Linked DNA regions of Homo sapiens: region 2 is linked to region 1. The links come from fine-mapping of genetic effects on gene expression. A gene starts in region 1. The other region holds a variant in brackets. All regions are shown on one strand. Distances are from middle to middle.

Region 1 (12,660 bases):
CCATGTGGTCTTGCCTTTTCCTCGAAGTGTTTGGAAATAATACAGGGAAACAGGATCTCTTCTAGTTCTATTCCACACCTATACCTTAACTTTCACTAGGCTTCTCTACTGCTGCTCTGGGCTGTTGACTGGCTCTAGCCCTTTGTCTTCCTCCCTGGACTCTTCTGTGACTACAGTTAAGCCTTCAACCTTCCTCTATTATTCCTGCAAAATGTTGTGCCCTTTTAAATTCCTGAATATGGCCTTATTCTCTCAGGATTATTACTCTGTCTGCTGGAAAATATACTTCTCATATTGACTTTAGAATTTCATATTAAACTTCCTTCCAAAAGCATAGTGTTCCGTACAGATCTCTCCTCTGTCATTCTCTATGTTTTTCTTAAATGACATGTTTGTAGCTGGACTAGATCACTATATAAGGCCCCCAAGGAATCACACCTTTCTGCATCCGTGCCCTTTTGCATGTGACATAGCCACATCTTCCATCAAGAGACTGAATTTATCCCCCTGACTGCTTCAATATACTCTGTCCATGTCACTTTCTCTGACCAATAGAATGTGGCAGATGCAGCCATGTGTGTTCCAAAACCTTGGACTTATGAGGGCTTGCAGCAACTGCCTTTGGCCTCCAAGGACCCTACCCCGAGACTGTCATGCAATGAAGAAACTCACAATGAAACTGCATTTGGAAAGAGAGTTTCAGCCAACCAGATTTCTTGGCTGAGATCAGTCCCCAGCTGATCCACCAGCTGAATGCATTGGCCTAAGTGGGTGCAGGTGAGACTTGGCAGAAAACTACCTGATTAACCCTAATGATTATTAAAAAAAAAATACAGTACATTGACAATTGATCCACTAAGTTTTAGGATGGTGGATTCTTATAAAGCAATAGATAAATAAAACAGAATATTGTACTAAAAATAGAAAGCAACAGATAAATCCACTAGAAGTTGGCACTGAAAGTACAAAGCAATAGATAAATGTAGCAAATTGATATTGCTGTAACAAAACCCCAAGTATATGGCATTGTCTTAAGGGCCAGGCACAGAACAATACTAAGGAGGAGTATGTGAAACTAGAAGAGTAGGGAGGAAATTGCTATTGGAGACTAGAAAAACAGAGGTGCACCAATTAACTGTTGCCTGTAGTAACTTAGAAAATAGAAAATGTTCCTAATGAACTTGTTGATTTCACTAATTTCCATGTAGAAAATTAAAAGCGACAACTAGCTTCTTTTAGCTGTGTTAAATAAGGTATTTTAAGAGAAAGTTTTCATTTTCTGTTGATGCCATAAAAATTACCACAAATTTTGCAGCTTAATACAAATTTTATATTTTATAGTTCTGCAAGTCAGAAGTTTATCATGGCTCTTATAGTGCTAAAATCGAGGTGTCAGCAGGGCTATGTCCCTTTCTAGAAGTTCTAGGGGAAGATCTATATCTTTGCTCTTTTGGGTTGTTTGCAGAATCCATTTCCTTGTGGTCTAGGACTAACATTTGTACGTCCTTGCTGCTGTTAGCTGAAAGTCTTTCCCACCTTCTTGAGCACACCCATACTCCTTGATCTCTTCCTCCATCCTCAGGCCAGCAATGGTAGGCTGAGTCCTTTTCTCACTTTAAATCTCTCCTGTGAATATCTCTGACTACAGCTGAGAAAGGTTCTCAGCTTTTAAAGACTCATAATTAGGTTTGGCTCACAAGGATCATCCAGGATAATCTTCCCATCTGAAGGTCTGCACCCTGTAATCATATCTGCAACATCCGTTTTGCTAAGTAAGGTAAAATATTCACTGGTTCCGGGAATAAGAGCATGGACATCTTTGGAGAGGCATTATTTTGCCAACCACAGAAATGAACTAAAGTAGGAACTTCCAGTTTGCAACTGAATTTAGAGGAAATATAGGGGGCTTAAGACAGTCTTTCATCCAGCAACAGATTCTTGATGTAAGAAATGGCCTCAGAATAAAGTTCAAATCAGGGATATGGCTGTAAAACCCTCCCTGAAGACCTCTGAAAGACTCAAGCAGTGACTTGGAGACTTCCTTAAATAGACAAGGGAGCATCTAAGAATTTGAAGGGCCTCAAATGTGACCCAAACATAGAGAAATACCTGTCTCAAAAAAAATATTATGTTTGTGGCTTTGTGGGCATGAGGTAAACCCCATTCAGATTCATTGGAAAGGCCTACACATTTCTAAGGAAGTTGTATCAATTTGGATTAAAAGGGACAGAGGCAGTTCAAAATGGAAAGAGCCCTCTGGGTTCCCAACTTTCTTTGCGGGGAGGCAGGCTGAGAAAGGTATGCAGCTGCAAACAGGAGCCATTTCTTATGAAAAAGACCAGACTTAGTGGGAAGGGCCAAGAGCCAAATATAGGAACAGATGAGGAAAAGGAGTAGCAACAGAGGCAGACTGTGCCCTAATAAGGAAGCATTACATGCCTCTGGGGTCAAAAGAGCTGGTGACATGGGCCCAAGTGGATTTCAGAATTCTGTGGTCCCGTGTGTTCTATGTACCTTCTATTCAGAATGCCCCCTCCCCCTTCTTCTGTCAGTTGTTATCCTGTTCTTGTTCCACTGTTAAATGTTGGGGGTTGAGACGGCTGGGAGAGAAGAAGGGCACATGCTTCGTCCTTTTAGTTCACAGGTCTCTGGATCAACAGATGCTGTACCCAAGGAGCTGGACCTGTGGAATTATCCCCCAGGAATTTTGACTGCACCTGGATTGGATTTAGGTGAAAGATACATAAAGTTGACTTTAGTGATTAAACTAGACTTTGGGGTGTTGGGAGTGGATAAGTGTAGTTTGCCTGTGAGGGGGATGTGAACCACAGTGACCAGTGGGCAGACTATGGTAGACTGTTATATAATAGCATCCAGTGGATCATGCCTTGTTGTGTTCCACACCCCTTTGCATTGTGACATTGCTACTCTTCACTTGAAGTGATGGAATCTGTTCCTCCACCAGCCTTGTGACTTCCTTTGATCATGACGAGGCCTCTAGGTGCTTGTTTTTTTCCAAGCAGGAGGCAGGCTGAGAAAGCCATTGATGGTGGGAGAATGTGATAAGAAGCGATGTTTGAGAACCAGAGCCTAGATCTTAGGGATCCCTTACCTTCCACCATCATCCTCTTAGAATAGTGTTCTGAGAATACGAGGTATATGAGGAAGTCTGGAATAAAGACTACATGAAGAGAATTGCCCAGTGAGCCCAAATTTCCCAGCTGAGCCTAGCCCCCAGCAAACCTGCCAGCTGAATGCTGCTGCCTGAATGTTCAGGCAAGTCTGACAGAATGGCCACCCAGTCAACTACAGAATCATAGAAAATAACAACTCATGTTGTTTTAAGCCACTGAGTATTGGTATGGTTTGTTAGCAGTAGATCGCTGAAACAACAGCTTAAGTACATTAGATCTCACATATTATCTGTTTATAGAGTATTTTTATTCCAATAGACACATTAGCTCATCTCATGAATAGAGATGGCAAAGTATCATAATCATAATCATAAAAATACCTTGGATTGATGAGTATTATTTAACAACTATTGAGAAACCATAAACCATAGTATGATCTTTAACCTAGAATGAAGTAGTACTCATCTCATAAAAGCCTTTTGCTTTTTGTGGAAGTTGAGATTGCTGCAAATATAATCTCAGTATATCTACTACCTTTTGTAGTGTAAGAAGAGTAACTGTCATGAGCCTCAAATGAGTTCTGCAGTAGAGAAACCATATAATGAAGTAAAGAAAAAAACAAACAACAACAAAAAAAAAACCTTTATACTGATCACTACATGGGCAAAAAAGAAGACAGTTGTAGAGGTATGATGGAATAAAAAAATTGATCAGTCAGATGGCAAAACTGTCATCTTCATCAAAATGCCAAGAAATGTTCTTAATCTTTTTGTGCCAAACATTTTGTTTTAGTAAGATTCTGGGACTGTGTATATTTGTTCATTCACTCAATTGTTTATTTGACAAATATCGAGTGTTTACTAATGTGCCAAGCATTGTGCTAGATACTGGAGATCTAGTTATAAATAAGATAGATAGGTTTCTGACCTCAGAAATTTGGTTGGGGCTGGAGTTGTCACAATGGAGTGTGACAGGTAACACGACAGAATACTATAGTAGTAAGATTTTGTTGATTTTTCTCATAATTTTCTTTAACTCAATAGTCTCCAGGCTGCAGTTATAAAAACACTGCTGTTCATTTTTGTAAATTACAGGCACTTTTGCAGGAAGTGCTACATCTTGATTCTGTACTTTCCAGGTTCCTGGAGACCTAGAAATGCCCTTATATCATATAGGGATCCTTATATTGTATTGTATCCTGATGCTACTGATCCACAAAAGATGCTGCGTGAGTGCAAACATCATTATTTGATTTCCCCTTAGGATTTCCAGCTGATGCCTAAGTGGATTTTTCTGGAAGAAAGAATGTATCTTTAGAAAGCAGAGTGAGGATCCTTCCTAATGTAATTTGAAACATAGTTTCGTATGTCTAACTTCTGCTTTGCCTCATGCTCACTGAAATCTACAGCTAGCCTCATTTTCCACTTGTTTTTGACTCTCTCAGGCATCTTGAGGATTGAGATCATGTCGTAGTTATCTTTTAGACTTAGTAAATGAGTAATAAATGTTTCTTTTGAGTGACTCAAAAATTATTGCAGAAAAATTATCATCCTAGATCATTACTATTTTTCTATTGCATTTTTATTTAGACATGTTCAAAACTTTATTTATTTTTTTTTTTTTGAGACGGAGTTTCACTCTTGTTGCCCAGGCTGGAGTGCAACGGCACGATCTCAGCTCACCTCTACCTCTGCCTCCCGGATTCAAGTGATTCTCCTGCCTCGGCCTCCCGAGTAGCTGGGATTACAGGCATGCGCCAGCACGCCTCGCTAATTTTGTATTTTTAGTAGAGATGGGGTTTCTCCATGTTGGTTAGGCTGATCTCGAACTCCTGACCTCAGGTGATCTGCCTGCCTTGGACTCCCAAAGTGCTGGGATTACAGGCGTGAGCCACCACGCCTGGCCTCAAAACTTTAATTTGTTTTCATATTCATGTAAACTACTTTTGGATAATATGACAAACCACCAAATAAAAAAGAAAAGAAAAACATATAAAACATGGCAAGAACTGTGTTTTTAAAGAAAAAAGTTATTCAGTGATTCTTGTCAAAGCATGGTAAGGAAGACTGTATTTAGGGCTATAGTGATAGGTATAGGGACCATGGCAGCAGGGTCTTGCCATGTTGAAGAAGAGATTAGGCTCAATTCTGAATGCAGCATGGACAAGTGGGAATTTATAGCCTAGGAGCATGCAGGACAGGGGCAGTAGATGGAAAATTACCAAGGAAATATCAGGGATAAGGGGGATTCTGACTAAACCAAGCAAACGGGATTCTTGCTGAAGACAGAACAGGAGTTCAGGCCTCACATGGGGGATGCTGGAGGATGAGGAACCTGATCAAATATCAATATTGAGAATGGGGCTTCTTGCTAAATTAAGTTAGTAGGGTTCTTTGCTAAAACTGGATTTTATAAGGAAGTGCAGATGGGCCCAGCATAAGATTCAGAAACCTTACTTGTTTGACCAAGCAAAGAATCTTTGTCAGTGCTTAGGGTTTTTTGTGTTTTAACTCTGTTTTACAAGTAAACGATTATTTTAAAACTTTTGTCTCAAGAAACTTGTTTTTCGTTGTTTGACGTTATTCATAAACCTACTTACTGTATATGTGTCAGGGACAATAGGCTACAAAACCAAAACTAAGATGACAACCTATTTTGTAAAATGAAACTTGTAAAAGGCAACACACTGCATAGTTCCAAAAAGGTACTGTTACCAGAGTTCCAAACCGGTCAGGCCAACATTCCTGTTGTTAAAAAAAATCAATCAGGAAAAGTAGGGAATGCTGACACTTCCGCAAAGATCTACTTTCTCTTAGATAACAGATGTTGAAAACTGATTTCCCACAAAAAAACCCTAGAGGAATTGATAACCCCAGGAAGATGTTTTCTTTATATAACTGCTGCAAAGTTTGACAGCAAAGAGTCAGTCCCTCCTCCTCCTTAGGGGAGATAAACTTGATAATCTGCTTTTGCTCCAGTTTTCTTGTAATCAAGTCACAGGCCTTTCCTCTTCGCTAGCCCCTTTCAGGCTGCTTTTTATCCGTCTTTCCTAGAGCAAAGGACTTGTCCCCCTCCATCCCATTTACTCTCGACCCCCTTTCAGTTACTTGGCATCTTCTTTTCCTCGCGTTTCCCAGTTGGTCCTAATTTGTTCCCCTTTTCTCTGGCTGGCTGGGCTCCCGCTCCTCCACTGCTGCTCCTCCCACTCTGCGGGTTCTTTCTTTCTCCCTCCCCTCCCCTCCCCCAGCCATGCCTCCCAGCGCGCTTCCCTTCCCCCGCCTCCTGGTCCTGCACCCTCCCCTCCCCTCCCCCCGCTTCCTGCCTTGTGACACATCCCGGGCCCTCCCGGAGGCGGCAGCAGCAGCAGCTGCAGCGGCAGCAGCGGCAGCAGAGGCAGCAGCAGTAGCCACCACTCCGCCGAGGCCGCAACCCCGGCTCGGCCTCCCCAGGCCCCGCCGCTGCCGCAGTCATGGCTGCTGATGGGGTGGACGAACGCTCGCCTCTGCTGTCAGCATCCCACTCCGGAAATGTCACTCCCACCGCCCCACCGTACTTGCAAGAAAGCAGCCCCAGAGGTAAGGCCAGCGTAGATCCCTCTACTTTGCAAGGAAGTAGATTTGCAAGGAAACGCCCAGAAGGATAAAGACCTGGGAGCTCTAGCTTGGAGGTGGAGGTGAGCCTCTCGCTTGGGCTGAGGAAGGATGCTGACTGTGCCTTCCCAGGCAAGCCCGCCTGCCTGATAGCTTCTCCGCAGGGTTTTTCTGGTGGTGGTGGTGATGGTGGTGGTGGTGGTGGTGGTGATGGTGGTGGTGGTGGTGGTGGTGATGGTGTGTGTGTGTATTTCACCACTTCTTACCCAGGGCTACAGTATGTGACATGAATTTCCCAAGCTCTGCTTAGCTGTTTTCAGAACAGCCCCTAAGCGCAGCTAGGAGGTGGTGCAAATCTTTCACAATCATTCACAAATCTTTTTCCGTTGCTGAGAAACCAGGAGTATTGCTCACCTTGGCATCTGTCCTTGAAAGGGCTTTAGCTTGAACAATATGCTTCTGCTACCATTCACCCAACAGTGCTCTGTTCACTCAGTGAATTGCCATATCCAAAATGAATACAGTTAATCAATATTCCTAATATGTCTGAAATTCCTGCCCCTCCTTTTTACTCCTACTTTCAAGGAGTATGTGTTAGATTTAATTGTGAATGAGAAGGAAGGACCTTACTTCTCATAGAAGGGAAGATGGGATATTTTTAACACATATCTGGGTGAGATTGAAATTAACTTGTAAAAAGTAACCCAAATTAATAATACATATATTTCTATTTTTTTCTCAAGAAGAATAAAAAAAGATTAAATGCAATGGGATCTGGAGAAATATGGAATCTATTTACCATACTATTCGATTTATTTAAAAATCGATCGTTGTTCTAAGCCTTTTAGTTGATTACTATAGTAAATAAATAAGGTGGAGTCAGGCGTTACAAGAAAATGGAAGGCAAGACTTAAAAAAACCCACTTAGGTTAGTGAAAAGATTGGTCAAAATGGCACTTGCAAATGTTCCTTAAGTGCATCTCTCTCTTTTTTTGGCTAAATATGAGCAAAGTTTAAAAACCCAAGGAAGCAAAAGTTAATGATTTTGAAAATATAAGTAGGTAATGTTTCTTGTAATACAAGTTTTTAAGTTCAAGTCTGGAATTAGAGCTGATGTAGAGCAGGTTGAACTTGCTTAGTATTTAAAATTTCTATTTAACATTTTGTAACTTCAAAATAAACTATCTAGATCTTAATCCATACTTAACAAGAAGAAAAACAAAGGAAAAAGATGCTTAGCTGTAAATAATTCAGTGTGAGCCATGGCTTGAGAAATAAGGCACAGAGAGAGACTTGCCCACAGAAAACCTACAGGTCATTTTTGTTGGTCAGCATTAAACTTGTATCAGAGGACACCAGGCAAGAGAATTTCCTCTAATGGGCCAATTTGATATGAATATTTTACTGTTATCTAAATCGTATTATGTAGAATAGACTTAAACACTCACTAATGAATGTTTCAACTTCATCAAGTCAGCCTTTTATGGCAAAATGTTTGGCGGTTTATTAGGAGACAAAGTTTCAATTTAAGTATTTGTCCTATAACCTATTTTCATGCCCTCAACTAGTGGATAAGTTATTTTTTAAAAATGGCTACACTCAGGGATCAGCTTATAGACATCTTTATTATTTTCCATATATTTGTTTAACCTAATAAGATTCCTCAAACTACACAAGTATAAGTTCCAGTTCAGCCACTGAGAAAAAGTAGTGTCATTGTAGAAAACTTTTAACAACCAGAGAAATTCAATGACTTAGCAAAAAGCTGCTTCTGCCTTATGGTAGAATACATTTTTTCTTAATTGGTGAATGAGACAGGTTAGATGATTAGAGAAACTCTTAATTTCATATGACATAACACCTACTAAGGAAGAAGCATAAATGAGAGGTAAAAGCATTTTATTTGCATTTTGACAGAATATTTTTCTTCATAAGTAACAAACATTGTAATAAATATTATGAGTAATACACAAGATCTGGAAGACCACCACTATTCATTCATTTATTAATTTATTGGGAAGCACAATGTGCCATACACTGCTCTAGGGGAACAAGAGTGATCAATCCCATACCCTCATGAAGACTATATTGTATTAGGGAGAAAGAATAAATAAATACATGGCTGAATTATTTCAGATTGTAAAAAAAATTCTATCACTAGATCAGATGTTTTTGGTAGTTGAAAACCGTTAGGGTTGACAGTTGGAATTCAATCAGAAACAGAATGCACTTTCTGATAATGAATTTTAGTTAATGATCCCATTTACAATTATTCAGACTTTTATTTTTTTAAAAAAAGAAGTTAAAAGCTATAACTAGTGAATATTTTCTCCAATCTGACCCCTTTCTCTTTCTTTTACCTTCTAAAGTACAGGAATGTTAGTTCCCACCTCCAAGATGAAATAGTCCATTTCAGGTTGAAAGTCGGTGGAGTGTTTATTTCTAGACAGATTATTAATAATGTAGCAGGGAGCAGTTAGTATTGTGTGTTTGGTTTTAGCACAAGAAAAATCATGTGTGGTCTGTGTAACAATCCATGTTGGTTTCTAAGTGGAGCATGTCTAGTGTTCTCTACTGTCAGTATTGGATTCATGCATAGGAAATTGCTTCTCTCCTGCTTGCAGTGCTTCGTTTAATATACTTGCCAGTTTTTGTTTAGGTATAGAAATTAAAATTAAAGAGAGTTTTAGGCTCATCTGAAAGGAGATTGGAAGAAATACCACAAAATTTACACAGTTTTGATGTATTAATTGATTCCTTTATACATCTGCTAATTTTGTAGTTAGGATATAACAAAAGAATATGACCTTTGAATTTATAAGATTTTTTCTGTGAAAATTGTTTATATCTGGGGTTGTCTCATTATGTATTCAATATGGAAATGGGATTATATACTTCACTATAATTCATAAAGGGAAAATAATAATTTGTTATACAGAGGCAGACAGTTTGATTTACTTAGTTTATTATTCAGCAAATAAATATTTGAGTACCAGCCAAATCTGTGGTAGGAGAAGAAAAATAGTCATGGCTCCTCTTCCAGTGTAGTGGGGGTATTGAGAAATAAATTATGTAATCACACAAACAGATGCAAAATGCAATGGTGATGAAGACAGTGCTGGAAATATATGCAATACCTTGAGAGTATAAATTAAGATTTAATTTTGTTGAGGGAGTCGGGGAAGGCTTTCTTGATGCTTGAATGAGATCTGAAAGTTGAGCAAGAGTTAACTTGGCAAAAGGTGGACTGGAAGACCATTATAGGCAAAGAAAGCAGTATTGGCAAAGTGATCAGCAGGGTGGAGTATGACAAATACAAGGAACTTAAGGAAGGCCAACGTGGCTAAAATGGAAACAGCAGTAGGAAATGCACTGCAAAATGGGACTGGAGAGATAGGTATGGTGGATATTCTCCGAAGACTCTCTTTCCCCTTCAAAGAACTATGTCTTCTGATATTCAGTTTCCTCCCCTTGAATCTGGGCTGATGCCATGACTTGATTTTGACCTCTAGAATAAGGTAGAAAATATGCTGAATGACTTTGGAGGGTAGGTCAGAAGAGGTTTTACAGCTTTTATCTTGGTCTTTTGTAAAGTACACTCTGGGGAAAGTAACTTGTCATGTAAGAAGTGGAACACTCTGAGACTGCCATGCTTTATGGAACCTGAAACTAGCCTGGTAGAGAGAAAGATGCCTGACCAGCCCTCAGACATGTGAAGGGAGATGCCATCTTGGATGCCAAGCTCAATTGAGCCTTCACATGACTCCAGCCTTAGCCAAATTCTTACTACAACCACATGTGGCCAACTTGTTCTGCAGCAACAGATGACCAGAATAATGAATATGAATCAGCCCATCCAGGATATTGTTGGTCATGTTAAGGAATATTGCCATAAGCAAAGGGATGACTGGATTAAATCTTTATTATTAGTTTTTAAACCACTCTATAGATTAGAGAATGAATTAGAGGATTGGCTAGAGTAGACAAGAATAGATGACTTCCTTGATTATTGTAATAATTCGGGCAATTTAACTGAACTATTTCAGTAGCTTGGACTCAGGTGGTGGTAGAGATGGAGAGATGAAGGATGATGTTAAGGAGGTGGATTGAACAGGGCTTGATGATGGATTGCACATGGAAGTGAGGGAGAAGTGTCAAGGGTATCTCCTAGAATTCTGGCTATGCAACGTCATGGTGTGATTACCAGAACACCAGAAGACGGAGAACACCAGAAGAGGACCGAGTTTTGGGGAACACGGATAATGAACTTAGTTTTAGACATGATGTATTTCAGATGCTTTCAAATATCCAAGAAGAGATGTGACAATTGGATCTACAGATCCCATTTCTGGCAAAATGGGACCTGTAGTGTAGATCCGGTTGTCATATCTCTTCTTAGTCCTCGTTTCTTAGGACTAAGAAACGGGGCCTGGGCTGAATATATAAAATTGTGTGTTATTTGCATATTGGTGATAGCTAAATACATGGATGTTGATTCAGAACTTCCCAGGGCCCTACCATAAGATGTGCTGTGATGGAACATACATGTGCTAAGGTAGTGATTAAAGCCTTCAGGCCAGAGGCCTCCAGTTTTTTTGGTTTTGTTTTTTTTTTCTTGAGACAGGTTCTTACTCTGTTGCTCAGGCCGGAGTGCAGTGGTATACTCATAGCTCACTGCAGTCTTGACCTCTCAGGCCCAACTAATCCTCCCACCTCAGTCTCCTGAGTAGCCACCACACTCGTCTAATTTTGTTGTATTTTTTATAGAGATGAGGTTTCACCAGCTTGCCCAGGCTGGTGTCAAACTCCTGGGCTCAAGCAATTTGCCTGCCTTGGCCTCCCAAAGTGCCAGGATTACAGGCATGAGCCACCACACCAGGCCCAGCGACCTCCAGTTCTAAGATGTCATACACATATTGTCATTTTCTCTGTGTACCACAGTGTGAAAAACTTTGAGGCGCTCCATATGAGATAACCTAGGGAGAAAGAGTAATCTAAGAAAAGGAGAAAGCCTGGACAAAGCTTTGAAAAACCTTCACATTTAATGACTAGGGAGAGGAAGGTGAATGTAGCTGCCGGCAAGGTGACAAAAACCAGGAGATGATAATATCACAGAGTCAAGAGCAAGAAAATACTTCAAGAAAGGAGTCTTCATGCAAAAGTTTAAGAAAGAGCAAAGATGGTAAGGACCAAAAATGTCTTTTGAAGTTAGTGTCATGGAGATCATTAGGGACTTTAGTGACAGTTGTTTATATTTGTTTATATTCAAGCTCTTTTTAAAGAATTGAAGAATTATCTATTTCCATCTAATGTAATATTCCAATGTACCTTTATTTTAATTGTAAACTGACCTCAAAGCAGCTTAACATAAATGAAAAGGTTAATATTCCTTTACTCTGAAGCTCATTTAGGTTTTCTATGAAGCGTAATTGTCATAATTGTGTTTTAGAAGACATTGCCATATCCTTTTCACCTTTAAAAAACATGTAATCTTGAAATTGCTTGAGAAAATGTTTTCAGTGAGTAGAAAAATAAAATAAATTGACTCCTGGTTTTGAGACATATCATTTAATATGTACTCTTATGCTTTCTTAGAAATCCTACAGTAAATAGGTTTATTTTTAGTGACTCTCATGTCCTATACCTGGAGAAATCTAAGGTTAGAGATAGTGTCTTAGTTTAAAGTTAGGTAAGGTCTTAGTTCATTTTTAACTATGTTCTACACTAGGCTAGACTTTTACTGAATTAAAGAGATTGAATACATTTTGGCAGTCTTTTAAATTGCTGAGTCTCCCTGCGTACTTGCAGAGTATAAGGTTGTCTGTGGATTGGCAGGAAGAGATGACACAGATCCAGGGACTCTTACCACATGCACAACCCATTGTAAGACTAGATTAAATTCTCACTTTACTTGCCAAGGATTCGGAAACCCACTG
Region 2 (12,660 bases), 140 kb after region 1:
GTTGTGTAGAAACCACAAAATAGTAACAGGAGGATTTGGGGAAGATGGCCATGTTGGTGGCATAGTTTATAAAACCCTTGGAATCTTCACATAAAAACAGAGCAAACAACTAGAAAACAGCAACAACAAAAAGCTCCAATAGACAATGAATGCAACAAAACTAGATGACAAGGTGTCATCATCAACCTACAATTGCAGGTGGGTAAGGACAAAATCACTGACAGCCACAAGAGATGCATTGCATGGTGTTGCTGGATGTGTAGGCAGAAACAAAGGAACACAATGGGTTATGAGACAAACCTGAGAGCAAGAGAACTCCAAAGTAGCCAACAAATGTTCACTAGAATAACAATGGCTAATTTGAGAATAGCAACTGAAACTGGCAGTCATTTTATCCAAAAGTGGTTGAGTACAAAAATGAGAGAGCACAAAAATCTTAGTAAGTCCTAAAGGGATTGGAACTGTGTAGCCCCTGTGAACTCTTAAAATCGGTCACTCCAAGGGCTATGTCAGGAGGGACCTACACTGAGGAATTAGCTAGGAGTGGACTCAAAATTGAGAGGGATGGTCACAGAGACAAGAAATAAAAAGGGAGATTCAGATAAAAAGTTGGGGAGAGAAACAGAGCCAGAAAGCCTTGGAAGAAAAGCTGCCTTATTTTTTCAGTACTATAAGACAAACCACTTAAGAGGAAGCCCTGTGAAGTTAGAAAAACAATTTTGAACACAACTTCCTTTGAAAAAATTCAGGAAAACTGAATTCTTAAAAGCAGCAAAAAATTATTAAGGTCAAATCCTATGCAAGGTTATAATAAGAAAAAGAAAAATAAGAAGCACAATAACATCCCTGCAGACAATGAAAGCATACCAGAAAGACAAGATGACAAAACAGACCCAAGTGCAACCAAGTATTTAAAAATAAGCTAGAAGATATTAAGAAAAAGATTTCAAGAAATGAACAAAAACATAAATCAGAGTTAGATTAACTCAGAAATGAAGTGATAGGATTCAGAAAAGAATTAGTAATGGAAGAAAAGTATTATTTCCGAAATTAAGTCAAAATTAGAAGGAACATAAAAACAAATAAACATTACATGTAATACCTTAATAAGAGAAAATGAAAGGAAAGAAAGCTTTTAAAATCAAAAATAACAAAGAAAACAAATAAAAGGGATTTGAGAGGAAGTGACAAATGTTGAATATACAAAGAATATACAATATACTGATAATAGAATTTCTAAGGAAGGATAGAAACTAACAAAGGAAAATAACACTAGAAACTATTATTCAAGAATGTTTTCCTAAAATAAAATGATTTGATATTAAACACTGAAAGTATGCCATATGTATGAGAATATCGACTCAGAACAAACACATCAAGACATATTTTCATAAAATTGCTGGACTGACAAAGCAAGAATTCTTCATGCATGGAGACATATAGAGCAAATGACTTATGGAGTAAAAAACAAAACAAAATAAAATCTAGATTACCACAAGGTTTTCCAAAACCAACACTTTTATTCCAGAAAAAAACGTAGTAACATATTTTAAGATATTTAAAATAGAGCCAAGAATTTTGTATCAGGAAAAATTGTCTTTTAAGTATAAACGGTCCCCGAAAATTGTGAACATGCTAAAACTCAGGTAATATTGTTCTTGTGAGCCCTTCCTCAGGAATCTTAGAAAATGAGCTGCAGACAACCAAAACAACCAGGGAGACTTCAACATAAATACTGGTGATCTAGACCAGATCCAGGCAACATTTTTTTTTTTTTCGTAGAGGCCTAGACAGTAAATATTTTAGATTTTGTGAACAAGAGATCACATGAAAGCAGCCATAGATATAACTGAATTAGTTGGACTATGTTCATAGACCATATAAAATATATGACTGGCAGAATTTGGCCAATGGCTGGAGTTTGCTGATCACTATTTCAGTCACTGAGTATCAAAGGCTGCCAACCTCAAAAATAAAAACAACTAAAAGATGTGATCCTTGACAGGAGAACACACTATCCACTATAGTTTTGTCAAATTAGCCTCTGGATTTAGCTGACAATTTCTAGCAAAGATAGAGTTCAGAAGAACGTGCTTACTTGTACCATGATTGGCAATCAGTAAAGCCTAAACCATGAGCATAAGCACCTCTCTGGGCTCTGTAACGGATAAACTGTAAAAATATATAAATAAAAGCGATTGCAAGATAGCCTATAAATTAAAAGAAATGCAATACAGAGAAAATGAGTACAATTTAACTACAGTTTCTGGGAATGAAAATCTGTGTAATAAAACCATAATAAAACACAAGGAAGTGACTACTAGAAGGATCCATTGGTAGTTATTTTCAGGGGAAGGAGGAATCATAATTGGGACAGAGCATGTGGAAAGACTTCTGGGGTAACTGGTAGGTCAGGTTTCTAAAATCTTGGTGATGGATTCAAGAGTGTTTGCCTTATGATCATGAAGTTCTACATTTGATTTGTGTGGCTTTCCTTTTTGTTTTGTTTTACAATAAAAAGGTTAAGGTATGTGTAGGAACCAGTCTAGTAGAAATATACTATATTCATATGTTTGAGGAGCTGTGGAGTAGACAGATAGGGGCTGTAAAATACAGGACTCTTTGGCAGGCAGTAGGACAAGAAAATCTGTAAACACTTCCAAATTAGTAATTTTTAACACCTCTTATATGCCATCTTCTCAACTGCTAGCATGCATTTTTCTGGAGTGTAACGTAGAACCAAATGTTACGTTTTTAAGTATGAAGAGCACAGAACTATGTTCGTACATAAATTGGATTCAATTTATGTTTGTTGATATTGATGATAAAATATCACCAAAATTTCTTCCCCATAAATACACTGCTTTCCACCTTATTGCTCACACACTTTTCTTTGAATATCATTTTTAAGCTTGTGGAATACACATGAGACAAAGTTGACATAAATGATACTCAAAGGATAACACTCATTTGTAATGTTACTGTTCCTAAACAGTATATGTGTCAGATGGATAGTTCTATTTTAACCACAGTCCTATAATATGTTGAGTTAATAGGCCTAAGTTACTAAATTTGTCAGACACAAATACATTTTTCAAAATATCATATATGATCTCTGTGCTTTCAAAGGCGAATTATCCTTGCTTTTGATCTAAACAAATTTTGTGACAGAAGAATAATTGAACATTAAAATATTATGAGCATTTCTAAACAGCATAGTGTATGGAAAATAGTAGTTTATAAATATGTGAAAACTGACACATTTCTGGATTTAATTTTCCCTTGTGGCTCACTATGAAAGAATACCAAAATATTCTGGTAATTTTTTATTCAGGAAAAAATAACCTTTGGGAATAGATAACTTGCTCAGAATAACAAACAGGTAAGACTTTTTTTTCCAGTGGGATTTAAAAACCAAAATACTGTACTTCATCAAATATAAAGTGCCATTAATTATAAGATGCACCACTATTTTGGTATTTTATACACCACAAGGAAATAACAATATCACCAGTTAACTTTTATGCACCATCAATTGATAGATATATCCCAATTTCATAGCTGTCAGAAAAAGGAAACATATGTATCCTAGAAATAGTGAAATACATTGTATTTTTTATTACATTTCAATATGGCCTGTGACTGAAAGCAAGGGGTGTGGATGATCTGTCTGTACCTGTAACTTTATTGTGTTCTATATCCCACATTTAGAAATCAGGATTGAAAGACAGCACTATTTCTCACACATGTTCAAGAAAATGACTGGGTAACATAAGAGACTGGCTATAGCCTGAAATCATAGCCTGGGCTTGCCTTTCTTAGCATTGAGTTTGTGTCAAGGTCTCCTGGCATTTTAGGAGTATCTAGACAGGCTCAGAAGCTAACTGGAATTTTAATGGTCATCTGGAAAAATAAGCCAAGAGTTCATAGTATTAGCTAGCTAAAACAATGCAGTCTACTAATTCTCTCTCTCTCTCTCTCTCTCTCTCTCTCTCTCTCTCACACACACACACACACACACACACACACAAAATTGGGTGGATTATAAGAAGTAAAGACCCTCAAATTTTCATTATTAAAAATATATATGATATGGGAAATTAGCCAGGCATGGTGGCATGTGCCTGTGGTCCCAGCTACTCAGGAGGCTGAGATGGGATGATCGCTTGAGTCCAGGAGGTCGAGGCTGCAGTGAGCCATGTTTGCACCACTGCACTCCAGCCAGAGCAATAAAGTGAGAAGATATATATATATATATATATATATATATATATATGTGTATATCATATGTAAGGAAAAGGTGGATTATTCAAATCTACCTGCATCCTCCTTTCTGAAAAAGGTTTCTAGATGACTATACAGACTACTTAAAATTAGTTCTGAATGTCTTATTGATAAATTGGAAGGTAATATTTACATTAAACAAAATTTCTGAAAGTTCCAATTTTGGCATTAGGATTAGTTAAGTATCCTAAAATACTCCTTCTATAGAATGCACTATAAAAGGTAAAGTGTGGCAAATATTATTTGAATGTACAACAAAGCTTCTAAGAACATAAGAGAAAACCAAGAGCGTCAACAATGAACAGGAGACAAAGAGACTGACAGTAATCTTGCATTGAAGGCCTTGCTCTACTGTAGGCATTTTCTTTAACTGGAGACTCTTAAGTTCCAGATTTTAACAACTTTTGGAAGAACAGAGGATGAGTCAAGGTAGGGGGTTGAAGCTGGAACACTCAAAGGACCACATTTTTACTAAAAGAGAGCTGGGAAAAAAACTCTATGCGTGAACAAAGGAAGATGACAAATAAGTCTTCTCAGTCTTAATTCTGGGTGCAAAACTCTCTCCTGAAAACCTAAAATCAAGATTCAGTCCACTCAGCAGTCTGAGGTTCGAACTCCTATACCTGCATATTCAGGGAAGCCCAAAACTGAGAGATTAACTCACCTCAGTTCTGTATTGGTAGTATGTTGAGGCAGCTGGCATAAACAAAAACATATTCTCCGTAAAGAAATACATCAAATCCCCAATGATTTAATCAGCCAAGTATAAACTAATAGTGGAAAAATGCCAATCTACCCGCACATATCCATATCACACAAAGAAAAAAAGTATCATAAAAAAGAGTCAGCGATAATATGCTTCAAATGTTCAAAGACATAAAAAGGGTAATGAAAAGCAGGAGAAAGGAGTGAGAGACTATTGCAAGAAACCGGGCAGTTTTCAAAAGAGGCAGTAAGAACTTCCAAAAAATAAACATCCAATGGATATGTGAAATAGATTAGATACAGATGAAGAATAATTAGGAACTAGAATATTAATCTGAAGTAATTATCCAAACTGAAGCAGAGAGATGAACAATATGAAATAGAAGTGACAGAGAAGAGAACGAGAGTATTTAACTTACATATAAGGAGTTCTAAGAGGAGAACAAAGAGAACAGAAAAGAGACAATTGCTGATAATTTTGCAGTATTAAACAAAGGTATGACTCTTCAGAGTCAGAAATCACAGCAGATGCCCAGCAGCACAGATGAAATTAGCACCCAGATGCAATATAGTAAAACCTTAGAAAATAATAGAACAATTAATCTGCAATTTTTTTTCTTTCTCTCCTTTCTTGAAATCCACAGCTAAAACAATATGTATGAATCCTTGTTCCAACTGCCTATGAACCTGTGGCTATTAACTGTGCAGGCTTGCTCTTCTGTCTTCCACCAGACACTTAAACTCTAGGGTACAAGTGCTAAATTATCTGCACGGACCTCTTGAACCACTGCACTAACTTGGCTTAAGATAAGTCACAATTGCCCAACACTGCACATTACAACTCTCTGCAAACAAGAGTTTCAGTAATTCTTCATAGCTATATTGGACTTTCCCTGGCTTCTTTCTGAAGTTCCTGTTCCTGTATTTTGCCAAATCATTTGCTATTATGTATTCTAATTTTTCCTTATTGATTTATAGCATTTGTTTAAATGTTTTTAACACCAGCCCTTGGTAGTTAAGTTTTGCAAATTCTCTTGGTTTGTTTGTTTTTTCAATTTGTAAGTGCTGTCTTTTGATATACAACTTAATAAAGTGAAAGTTATGCCATACTATGTTCTAAAGGTATAGTTTATATTTTGCATCTTGTTTAAGAAATCCTTCTTACTCTAGTCATTAAACTATTTTCTTCTATACTAAAACTTAAATTTTTACACATGTAAGTCTTAAACTGGGATTGATTTTTGTGTATGGATTCAGAATTTAACTCTTTTGTTTTCATATAGATAAGTCATTTTTCTAGCACCATTTATTGAACAGTCCAGTATTTTTTTTGGCACTGATATGTCATGTCAGCTCTTTCACAAGTAAGATTTCTATACATTTTTGCCAGATCCATCATAAATTAGGTTTCTATACATGTTCTAACTATTGTTGGTTTATAGATATACAATTTTTTTTATTATTTGTCTTCTCTGCTAATTTTCTCATTAATTCTTTTGGAAATTTGCTTAGAGGTATATTGGACCTTCCCACTCAATCTTCTAGGTCTCTTAACTTCTTTTCTATTTTCTAAATCTTTGTCTCTCTAAGTCACATTCTCTGTGGTATCTTCAGTTGTGTCCTCTAGTTCACTAATTCTCTTTTCTACTCTATTTAATCTACCGTAAAACTGGTTTCCTGATGTTTTCATTTCAATTATTGTATTTTTTAAATGTTTAGCAAATCTTTTTGTGCTTTCTCAAATTTGTTTTGTCTTTTTTATATCTTGCTCATTTCTCCTATTTTTAATCCCA[C/G]ATATATTTATATAAATATATTAACATACTTATTATTTAGCTGATGATTTCAATATATAAAGTCTTTTAATACTGTCTGAAGTATGTTTTGAGATTTTTTTTTTTGCTTTCAGTACATATTCCTTGCAGGATTAATCTGTGGAAATTTTACCAGATCTAGATTAAGAGAGAATTTGATTTTGCTTTTGTCCAGTATCTGGGGGCACCATCATCTTGGAATAATTTTAAATTAAATTCTTGGCTTGAGGCTTTCCCCTCCACCCAGGAAAGTGATTTGGCCTGCACATTTACATGAGGGCTGACTTGCAGTTATAAATTCTCAGGGCAGACTTCTTTCCCCCTTTGTTTATTTGGTGCCCTGGATCACTAGGGGTAACTTTCCTTTCGAGGAACAGTAAAGGCTTTTGGGTTCCAAGTTTTTGCAGAAGGTTGTTATCAGAATCCTTACCTTGCGGGGTGCTGGTGGCTACGCTTTCTCTTGCCCCAGTGCTGAAAGTCTTCAAAACTGAAATGTAAGGTCAATGAATTAAAGCCACTTCCTACTGCTTATTTCTTTGTGTTCCCTCTTTCACTTACATTTTGGCCTCTGAGAAGTCTTTGCTTTCTTGCCAGGGCTTGGATACATTTCAGAAATGTAAAAATATATTCTATCCATTATTTTTAGTTTGTTTCAGCAACAGAATTGTTGAAAGAATCTCTTCCCCCAAACTGCTATAAACAGAAGTTGCTAAGTATTTTCTATGGATTCATTTATTTGGACCTCCCAAACTTGTCATAAGAGATAAAGTAATCTGCCTAAAGTCAGATAGCTAACAGGTAAGTTTTGACTTTTTTGTTCATGAGTAAGTAATCATTGATCCATAGAAAAAATTAACAAATAAAAAGCAACTGTTTTTAGTAACTACCTTAAAACTCTACTGACTTTTATTATAACAAACCTACAATTACAGACTAAAGTGGTTGAAAAGATATGTGACATGTTTTTTTCTGCAGATAAAGCTGTATGAAAATTTTAAATTAAAAATATAAATAACTTTCACTTTTGAAGTAGCAATGTTATAAATTAGAAAATACAGATTGGCAACATAAAATATTTTTAAAAAATTGTTCTAAAATGGGATTGCAGTGGTCGTTGTATAACTCTATAAATTTAATAAAAATATTTAATTGTATGCTTACACTTGGTTAATTTTATGGTATATAAATTATAACTCAATAAAGCTATTGAAATATCTATAATATATTGTTTTTTCAAAACCAACTACATGTACATTTTAAATCAGTTATTTGCACATAAAAATACATACATCTTTCCATGTCAATTGTATTCATATATGATATAGTTTTTAATAGCCAAATAGTATATTTTATATTTATAATTTATTCATCAATCTCATATTGTTGAATATAAACTAAAGATAGTTGTCTAATTTTTCTTAGTATAAACATTTATATGGTGAATATTCCTTGTATACATACTAAATTATTTCCGAGTTAATGTTCTAGAAATGAAATTACTAGGTAGAATAATACCTAAATTGAAAATGTGAGACATATTTTCTCACATTTGCCCTCCTACAGGTAGAAGGTCACTAAGTTTGCCCTCCTACAGGTAGTACTAATTTAAAGTCCCATTATCATGTTTAAGAGTCTTCATTTTCCTGTGTTTTTGAACAATTGGCATTATTATTTTAAACATTTTTAATTGATAGAAGTATGTTTTATTGTCAATTTAATTTATATTTATTTAACTATTGATAAACTTGAACATTTATAGAATATAAACTGTAAAATGTGTGTACAGGTACATTATATATATAATTTATGTGTGTGTTATACACACATGAAGAGAGACAGAGAGCCCCTTTGCATTAGTAAGTACAACGTAATTCAATTGACTCCTTTTCTACGTATGTAACTTAATAGTAATAATTGTTTGTTCGTTTGTTTTTTTAGAGTCTCACTCTGTCTCCCAGGCTGGAGTGCAGTGGCAGTGGATCTTGGCTCACTGCAACTTCTGCCTCCTGGGTTCAAGCGATTCTCCTACCTCAGCCACCCGAATAGTTGGGACTACAGGCATGTGCCATTGTGCTTGGCTAATTTTTGTATTTTTACTAGAGGCAGGGTTTCACCCTGTTGTCCAGGCTGGTCTCAAACTCCTGACCTCAAGTGATCCACCCTCCTCGGCCTCCCAAAGTGCTGGGATTACAGGTGTGAACCACCACACCCAGCCAGTAGTGATGTTTCATAACAGAACAATCTGAGAAGTTTCAAAAAATAGGCTTTTCTTATTTTTAAGAGAAAGAATAAAATATGTGGATTAGTACCTCTATTATTTATAGAATATTCCTTTGTAAATATAACTGTGCAAAGTACATTAAAGAAGGAAATAAAACATCCTTTTGCAGTATAGATTAAAATGCTTCAACAAATACTTATGTAACATTAACACACACACACACACACACACAAATACAGAGAGTGCAAACGAGGTTTTAGCCAAACACTAAATATAGATAGGGTTTGCTAATGAAGGAACATTCTCATTCCTCCATTAAATGTGTGTAACTACAAGGCTCAAGTTAGTGTGAGAGAGCGATACTATTCAATTAATGACAAGAACAGAGTATACATAGTCTGTTGAAGCGAAAAACAAAATTCAGGGTCAAATGGTCGTACTATACAAATTTCACAGGCAATCAGCAAACCCACTAAAGACATAGAGCTAGAAGGAACCACTGAATACAAATTGCTCATTTTCAAAAGGAAGGCCAGATAAATTAAGGAGACTTGCTGAAGACCACATAGCTCTCCTCGGCTAGACTAGAATACTGGTGTCATTTTCCTGCACCATTTTATCAAAAGATGTTTAAAGCACAAAACACGAAAAGCTTTTCGATTGTTCCCAGGTCTGTGTTAAACATACCTGGAGAGAAACAGTGGGTTCTAGTCTCATGAGGCTACAAGGGTCAAAGGCTCTTGATTATAAAACTGTGCCCTTGAGGGCACCGCTGGAAGGAAAGCTTTTCAAAGCTGAAAACCAGCAATTAAAAAAGGAAAGGAAACATCATCTATTTAAGCTGAGAGTAGCAAAAAGGCAGCATAATTTATAAACACCATTTTTTTTTTTTTTTTAACAGAGAGACTTAAATCATATCAGCCTCAGAAGGTTTTTCTCAAAAAGGTTTAACTGCCTTCAGGAAAAGATTTATCAAAGCCTATGCTGGAATGAATATCTCCAGGCTGCCAGTTGTTTAATTAATAATTTTATATTCATCTTTTATATTTGAGATAGGTTTTCTGTGTTTTATATTAGAGCACTAAAAAATATTAATGTTGAAGGGTAAATTTTTAGATTCTAATTTATAACTTCACTCTGCCTCAGTCTATTTTTTACCACTGAAATAAAAATGTTCAAGTATTTAGACTGATTAAAGTACCTTTATCTTACTGAAAAATCATCAAGAAACTGCTGGAGCAAAACTAATTCAGTTATTATACAAACAACAAAAAGAAATTTCAAGTAGGCACTTTGAGCCCCAGGCTTGGGGTCATATAAAAAAATGACAAAGAGTATAAGAGCGTGATGAAACCCTGACAGGGATCTTGATTATTTCTTACAAAAGCATTCATTTTAATCAGGGGCTTAGATTTTGCTCCTTTGCCATGGCAACAGATAAAGAATCCTGTACCTGGAAGGTTATAGTGATAGTCTTAATTATGCTCCCAAGAGGCATTGTGTTAACAGTTTAGTGATTGGAAGGGAAAGAACTAATTCTACCCAATTCTGAATAATACTTTTCCTACCCTTATAGAGGATAAGATTCTACACTGGGTTATGGGCTTTGCCATTGACTCATACTATGATTTTAGGCAAGTCTACTAACCCCTTTGTGTTTGTTTTCTCAAATATATGAAATGAGAACATGGGGCTCAGTTTCCATCCTGGAACTGGCTAAGTCTGTGTTCACTGGTTCATCTAGAGTTGAAGAAGAAAAGAACCATTTTTCCTCTTTGTTCCATTGGTGAAGCAATTCTGTCATGCCTACTCTACCCTTCTGTTGTTACTTTCTGGCCTCAAAAGTGATCAATGTGGGAAGATTCAGAGTACACAGAATTATGCTTGTTCTGTTGTGTGTAGCTTGACATTTCACATGACCCTTGAATCATCCCATATTGGTATATAAAGACTAAGGTCAGTTGCTCTACTCCCGAACAACTGCCTATTTTACTAATGAAATGAAAATAATTCTAATAAGGAAAATGCAGCAACACTAAGTTTACTCATAGAGAAAGGCAGGGGAAAGGTTCATGCCTTTACAGCACTGTATTAAACACTAAGGTACTCTTCAAGGCTCCCCATTGAGTGCTCATTGTTGTTTTAGTAATGCTTATTATTCTCACTAGTGTATCAGACTGTAGGGAGGAAGGAATGTTTCCTTTCTTCCTACATACTGTGCAGTTAAGGTCCCAGAATATTCTGAAAATAATATTTTCAGAACTATTCTGTTTCAATATTTTCAATAGTTTCAAACTATTATGTTTAGCTTCATGCTGGTATAAGAAACAAGCACCCACCTGAATTATGAGTTTCTTATGACAAAGAAGGAAGCATTGTAAACCTTTCTGAATCAAAGGTATAATAAACACATACAAAAATCAAATGTACTGTACAATATCACACACATGAGGGACAAGATTTGAGCATCAACATATTTTAAACTATGGCAAAGCTAAACCTAGGGAATTGGTTTTTGGTTCATCACTATTTCTTTCTGCACATCTCTCTGTTCCAGAGTTTCTAAACTTGCTCCAGCTCAAATAAATTTTGGGTCCCATCTCTTTACTTTTAGTGAGCTTTTAACTACCCTCTGCTAAGTTATTCAGTAACTAGGACTTTAGATCTTTCTATTCCCAGGGATATTTACTTTTAAAAACTTGTAAAGACTAGACTCTTAAAGACTGAAAAACCTTTGAGAGTAAGAGAAGTGGATCTTTAAAGCTGAATTTTCACAGATTCTTGAATTTTTGCCCATGTTCCTCAAATCACATCCTGGTATACACTATGGCAGTCACCAAGGGACCACAGAGAGAAACTGTTTTAAGTATGCTTAACTACCCATCTCCAGCTGCCACACCTTGGGGATCAGCAGTGTTCATGCTGAAGCCACATCCTCTCCAGTATTCCTTGCCAAGGACTAAGGATGGTGTAAGTCAGGGGGGACTCCTCTTATGAGCAGTCTTTGCCCTCGGGCGTCCCACTGGCATAGCCAAAACTTTGTCAGAGGCTCTCTGCCAGCCCAACTTCCATTTCCTCCTCTTTTCACAGGTGCCAGACCTGCAGGGCAGCCTGAAGGATCTTCCCACTGCTCTTGTTCCCTCTCCCCTTTACCTTCCAAGGGCATTTCTCCCAACATATCTCTTGCACTTGGCTTCTGTTTCTAGAGGATTTGAGCAGACACAGTATTCCATAAATACTTGTGCCACATGAACGAATCTCAGTTGGGATGAGACAAATGAACTATTAGGAAGGTGAAGAGAGAGCTGAGGAAAGTAGATTGTGTACCTACCATGTACCAGGTGCCTGACTGTGAGAGTGACTCAGTGCAGTTGGGCTAAAAGACTAATTGAGATAATGTATGCACTGTGGTCAACATGTATTATGCTCAATAAATAGTAGCTGTCTCTTTCTCAATAAACACTGAATTAAGTGTGAAAAGGACAGATGGGTATGAGATACTGGGCATTATAGAAGATGCAATGAGCCAGGCAAGAGAAGAAGACAGGGGTATTGGAATAGGAAGCACAGTCCAAGCAGCAACTAGGCTTCAAACTCACTTGGAGCTGCTACTTCTGTTGAAGTTTTAGGCCTTCTGGA

Which allele goes with the higher level. Positions count from the first base shown, and alleles are read on the strand shown. Sizes are in standard deviations (SD) of each study's normalised expression.
In carriers of allele G in region 2, the expression in fibroblasts of the gene that starts at base 6,494 in region 1 tends to be lower than with C alone (moderate effect, 0.64 SD a copy in GTEx).

What was found.
Region 2: its variant is fine-mapped to the expression of PIP4P2 in fibroblasts (GTEx, PIP above 0.99).

What each region holds. Positions count from the first base shown.
Region 1 is chr8:91,034,693-91,047,352 of GRCh38, reverse strand. PIP4P2 (phosphatidylinositol-4,5-bisphosphate 4-phosphatase 2) reads left to right here and starts at 6,494. Exons shown (of 7, transcript NM_018710.3): 1 at 6,494-6,709. The coding sequence starts at 6,604. RefSeq lists a silencer at 6,273-6,472.
Region 2 is chr8:90,898,493-90,911,152 of GRCh38, reverse strand. The region is part of intron 5 of NECAB1 (N-terminal EF-hand calcium binding protein 1); the gene reads right to left. The region is part of intron 1 of LOC105375634 (a long non-coding RNA gene); the gene reads left to right. Among named protein-coding and RNA genes, the nearest start is that of C8orf88, 80 kb to the left of the region's middle. The variant C/G (reference allele first, on the strand shown) is at 6,783.